Linked DNA regions of Homo sapiens: region 2 is linked to region 1. Evidence: fine-mapped expression QTL. A gene starts in region 1. The other region holds a variant in brackets. All regions are shown on one strand. Distances are from middle to middle.

Evidence for each region. PIP is the estimated chance that this variant, and not a neighbour inherited with it, causes the effect.
Region 2: its variant is fine-mapped to the expression of ADO in blood mononuclear cells (TOPMed, PIP 0.94).

Annotation. Positions count from the first base shown.
Region 1 is chr10:62,803,197-62,806,112 of GRCh38, reverse strand. It overlaps ADO (2-aminoethanethiol dioxygenase), which reads right to left and starts at 1,393. Exons shown (of 1, transcript NM_032804.6): 1 at 1-1,393. The coding sequence starts at 1,053. The coding sequence ends at 241. RefSeq lists enhancers at 789-908, 1,379-1,638 and a silencer at 1,089-1,338.
Region 2 is chr10:62,855,480-62,858,395 of GRCh38, reverse strand. No RefSeq gene overlaps it. Among named protein-coding and RNA genes, the nearest start is that of EGR2, 41 kb to the right of the region's middle. The variant A/G (reference allele first, on the strand shown) is at 1,216.

The DNA.
Region 1 (2,916 bases):
TCCAAATCAAAGCCCCAGTGGCAGTGACAGTACCAGGAAACAATCTAGCCTCCCCGCCCACCCCGCCCCCATAACCGTGCCCGGCGGCTGCTGTCCAGTCGCCCGTGCTTCCCAAGGCTGCCGAGGAAGCGGCTGCTGCTCATTCCAGTAGATCCAACGCCCAGGCTAGGGGGTAGAGACACAGCCCTTGTGGTAGGGTAGGGCACGTCTTCGGCCCACCGCTCCTGGGCGCCAGTGGCTTCAAGGGAAGACCTTGGGACCTGGATAGGGTTCTCCCTCGCACCAGAAGTCATCGGCCTGTGGGGTCTCCAGGAGCCACACCTCTCGAGGCAGGTCACAGGCCGAGCTGGAGGCCTCCTTGGGCCTGACCGGCTCCAGCACCCGGTAATAGTGGCAGTCCCGGCCATCGTCCGGGTCGTAGGGCGGGGCCAGGATGTCCAGGAAGGCGGCAGGCCCTTCCACGGCGTCGATCTGGTGCAGGTTGTCCCGGTGCGGTGTGAGGATGCAGGGGCCGCTGGCCTCGGTGTACTCGGCCCGCGAACGCAGCACGCCCGGCCGCACGGCTTCTCGCTCCCGGGGCTGCAGCGGCGGCTCGAACTGCTGCTCGGGCGGCAAGGCCCGCGGCCGTTGCCCGCCGCCCGCGTCTAGCTTGTCCATGCAGCTGATGCGCACGGTGCCGTACAGCACCTTGAGCATGCCGTGCATGCCCGGGTGGTCGTGCAGCGGGATGGACGTGCCGCTCTTGAGCAGGAACACGCCCAGGCTGAAGCCGTCCGTCTCGTAGATGTGCATGTAGGTGACTGGCGGCAGGTTGGGCGGCAGCGGCTGCAGTGTGGCCTTGCGCGGGGCGATGTTCAAGTCCTCGGCGCGGAGCTGGGTCAGGAGGCTCTTCAGCTTGCTCAGGTTCTCGGGGAAGCCCGGCTGCATCGGCGCCTCCGGGCCAGAAGCCGCGTCGCGATCGGAAGCGCCGCGGCCGCCCCCGCTGCCCCGGAAGGTGAGGCAAGCCTGGCGGGCGATCCGTTGGATCAAGGAGGCCATGTTGTCTCGGGGCATGGTCGGCTGCTCCTCTGCGTGCCGGGACCGGCCCCCTCCTTTCCTCCGCCCCTTGCGGTCCCCGGCGGCCGCCACGGCTGCCCCCAGCCCGGGTCGAGGCGGGAGGCCCCGCAACCACCGGCCCGTCGGGCGCGCGGCACCGCCGCCAACCTCAGCAGCCACGCGCCCGCAACTGCCCGGCGCGCTCGCCTTGAGCCCCCTCTGAGCGCGCACGCGCACGCCCCACACCCCGCACTCACGCTCCGGGAGCAGATAGCGGCCGCGCAGACGGTGCCAGGCTTTGCCTTACGCCCGGCGCTCCATTCATGCGGCCCGCACCTACGACGGTGGCCGGGCGCCCGGGGACCCTGCGGAGCATGCCGGGACTTGTAGTCCGGCCTTCCGCTTGAGCTCTGAGATAGTTCAGTTTGTTGATTGGAAAATAGAGGAACTATTACACATGTTGGGCATAAAGCGATCTTTTTCAGGATGCAGAGGTGTTTTTCTTGTTTTAGAAAAGATGAATCGGGGTGGAAGATTAGTAGCCACTTGACTACAACTCCCGGCACTCCCCGCAGGGTGGAGTGACGCACTTCCGTCAGCTGGCCCCCGGAGTAGTGGAGGCTCTTGGCCTTCATAAGGAAAGGGGCAGGGAGGGTCGTTAACCTTCTGGCGCCGCGCTGGGGCCTGGTTAGCCATGCAGGGTCGCCTTCCTTTGGCCTTGCCCCTGGGAAGGAGGCTGTTGAGTCAGCCTTAGCTCCTCGTAGCGGCCTAGGCAGCACTGTCTCCCACGGGAATTGCAGGAGGGCGCTTTTATAATTTTGTGTTTCCTAGGAGGGGAGGGGGTCCAGGCCGTCCTCTGTGATCATCAAGGTTACTCGGCCCAGCTGGGCCCAGCTGGGCCCAGCTGTTGTTTGCATCAGGACCTGATGACGCTGCTCTTCTGGTTACAGAGCAGTATAGCTTTTTGCTGGAGAGACTTGAGAGGCCATTTACAGTGGTCGTGGATTCTGAACATACTAGTGGTTATCAAATCTTGGTTTGCCTGAGAAGGGGGAGCGGGCTTTTATAAATGCAGATTCCCTGTCGTCACCCAGAGATGGAGTTACTAGATGGTTCTGAGGCATCCTAGGAGAAATAGTGGTGTGCAACAGTCAGTTCAGTCAGTAATTGTGAAATTGTTTCACTACACAGAGGCATCCTTCTCCTTGGCGTGAACTAACTTTTGGCATAAGTAAATGACTAGAAAAGCAAGACATTAGATACTATGACTTTAAACTTAACCCTGAGTTTAAAGTCTTTTTGGATTCCAAAGCTGAACATGGGTTTCTTGTACATTTTGTAATTGGAGTGGTTCAGTGAATCCTCTCCAGTTAAAATAGGCATACTTTTTAAAGTGGATTACATAACCTGGCTAATGAGTACTCACAATATGCCAGGCACTGTGTTAAGTGCATTATATAATGAATGTTATACTATTTAATCCTTGCAGCAACTCTTAAGAGGCAGGCACTATTATTATTCCCAGATTGCAGATGAGGGAATAAGTTGTAGGATAGTGAATACTAAGTACCCAGCAAAGCATGAGCAGCAGAGCAGAAATAAGTACAGTCTTACCAAAAACAGCAGCTTGAATTGGTGTAAAAGCACCAAACGAGAGTCAGGATATTGTTGTTCCAGCCTACTGTGTGTACTTACAAGCTGTGTGTCGTTAGGCAAATCCTACCCTTTTAGGGCCTCAATTTATTCATTTGTAGAATGCCGGTGTTAAGGGAACAAAAGTTCTGAACCCTACTCATCAGAACCCCCTGGAGAGCTTAAAAAATAAAGATCTTGGGGTCACACCTCAGAGATTTTGATTCAGAAGAACTGGAGTGAAGCCTA
Region 2 (2,916 bases), 52 kb before region 1:
GTCTGTTTTCCCAGAACTACTCAGGTTCTTTCTTATGCCTAGTATCTTTAGTGTCTTCCTATTCTGAATTAGGAAATGAGGGCTTTTATTTCCTAGAATTTATTTATATTAAAAGTGCTTCCAAGTATAGATATTACATTATATGTCACTATACATTGTTTATGACTCATTATTCTTTATGTAAAAGAACAAAATGAAGAGAAATACAAAATTTGGTAAAAATATCTATAATAAAACACATGGAACTTAATAACACAAGGAGTGAGTCCTAAAGTATAGATTTTTAGTTAGTAATAATGCACTAATAATGGCTCATTAATGTTAACAAATATACCACCCTAATATAAGATGCAATAAAAGGAAGTAGAGTTTATAAGAACTCTTCATCTGTTCAATTTTCTATTAACCTAGTTCTAAAAAAAGTCTATTAATTAAAAAATTTTAATAATGAACTTGACTGTATTAAAAAACCACAGAAAACCTTTTCCCAATGAATCATAGTCTGTCAGGAAAATGACATATATATGCTTCAATGCAATATTCACTTCTTCAGTTTAATCATTTATCCAATAATGATGCTGAGAGTAACTTATTTTCCTTGCATTTTTTTGAAGAACTCAGCTTCCATCAATAACTGTTGATTTTTGCCTAATTTTCTCAAACATCTCTTACCAAGTCTCTAAGTACTTAATTTGAATACTAAGAGAGAGTCTACAGTTTCAGTGCTCACTGAACCTGAAGAGGGTTCACAGTCTCTAAAATTGTTCTTTGCTGAAATTTGTCTCTCCTTCATGGTGTACCTAGCAGAGGATGAATTTGCACTTTTAAAATAAGACTGGAATACTAAGATACACAGGAGGAAAACAATCTTTCATCATATCCAGTTGTTTCTCATTTGTATCCTTTCTCTTTGCCCATTAGGCTAGTAAGTTCTCATTAAACTATAATTTAAGGACATGGTGTTTATTAAAAATGTCATTGCATGATAAAGAAGGGACAAAACTTTGAAAGGAATTAATGGCTTTTCTGTATGATTTTATTTATAATTTCTCCCTAAGTGAAGCCAGTATAAATGATAGGCCTTATTTGCACTTCATTCTCCCAAAGTTTCATGATTTAGACAATTTTATATATAACTCATCTGTTTAGATATAGATCTAAACCAGAGTGAAAACCACTGTTAATGATGTTCTTTCACAATTCTCATAGTTTGAA[A/G]TGAAAATGAAAACTTAGAATTATTTATGACTTTTGCATACTGCTAGAAAAGCACATGGTCTTCAGTGATGATATGTTCTGCCCCTTCTTTTAGAAAGAGCATCAGGTAAAATAGTGGAAGTAGTTTGCTTAAAACAAGAACCAGTGCCTTGAATTAAAATCTTTATCTTTTTCTTCATTTAGATAAGAGGCCATCAATTTGTTTTAACTGTTTGTAGAATAATAAACTATTTGAAACATGTTTAGTCTTCTTTCAAGAGGAGGCATCAGTCTCAGATATCTTGAATTTAAGGTAATGCTATTTGCATTGCCCTTTGACCAAATCACCAAATTATTGCAGTGACCTATTCACACCATATATAGAGAAAAATATTTTACAGGAACAACTTTCCTCAAAAACTGGAAAATCATCAGATGTTTCATTTATAGCATTGATATGAGTGTACTGTTAGAATCAATTCTTATCAGGTTTTGATGAAGTTAGTCATCAATTTCTTGAAAAAAGTCTTTAAACTGGTAGGATTTTCCATCTCTGAAGTTAATATTATCAGCTGACCTGCTGATCATCTTATCAACCAGGGTGCTGCACTCAGAGTAGAGAAAGTAAAATAGCCACTTGTTGCCCCTGGCAGGACATCAAGTTCAAGAACTTTTACATTATCTCCAGGAATCTCATTAAAATAACTCACTAATATAGGAACAGCTTTTTTATTTTTGTGGTTAGCTGAAGCTGTAATAGTGCTGAGACACAAAGGTTTTATCCAATTCTTGTTAAATCTTTTGAGGTCTCGGAGTGAGTTAAAATTTGTTTTTGTTTTTTTTTTTTTTACACTATACCTGTGGTTTGTGCTGATGAAAATGTAAGTTCAAATGCCGTGGAACCTTGCTCAGAGATGTAGTCTAAAGATATGAAGTTATGATTGTGTTCTGTGGTGTTATATGGAATTACCACTGCTTTTCTGAGCACCTTTTATGGGCTATTTCATCATTGAATCATGGAAGATCCAGATCTGACAGATAATGACTGTTTCCTTACATTGAAAACGCAAAAAGATAGCAGATTTGGCTTCGACATTTTCTCACTTCCTACCACACAAGAAGCAAAGTGCTACATGTGGATTGACACTTTATTTATGTGAATATTCCTTTTGCAAACCCCAGTAAATGTTTTATTTTTTCCCGACCGTTTCTCTGCTTTGCAATCATTTTGACCCAAAAATAAAATAGTTTAAATAATTTTACGCACCCTTTGAATATCTCTGAACTACTGGCAGGAGCAGAAATAGCCCCTATAATTATCAATGCATATCATAGGAATCAGCTTTGCCTGAAAATCACTCCACACTTAGAAGTATGCACCTAGCTTCAGACTTAAACACTTGGACCAATATCCATCTTGATGCTCAGAAGAACCCAGCTTACCCCTTTCTGCTCCTCTTTCTTCCTCAACATCTTAACGCTGTCTTTCCTTCACTCAGATGTGTCTAGCCCCTTTCTTTCCTGCCCCCATCCCACATCCCCAAGTGCCCACAGACCCAACAATAAACCCTTCTGGCATTTTACACAGACAATTGCAGGTCACTGTAATAATTTTTCAGCCTGGGATCCTTCTTCTTTTGTAGCTTTTCATCTTAGATTTCTTAATTCTTTAAAATGAACATTACTAATTTCCTCCTTTCAGTCACTACCTTCCAAGATATT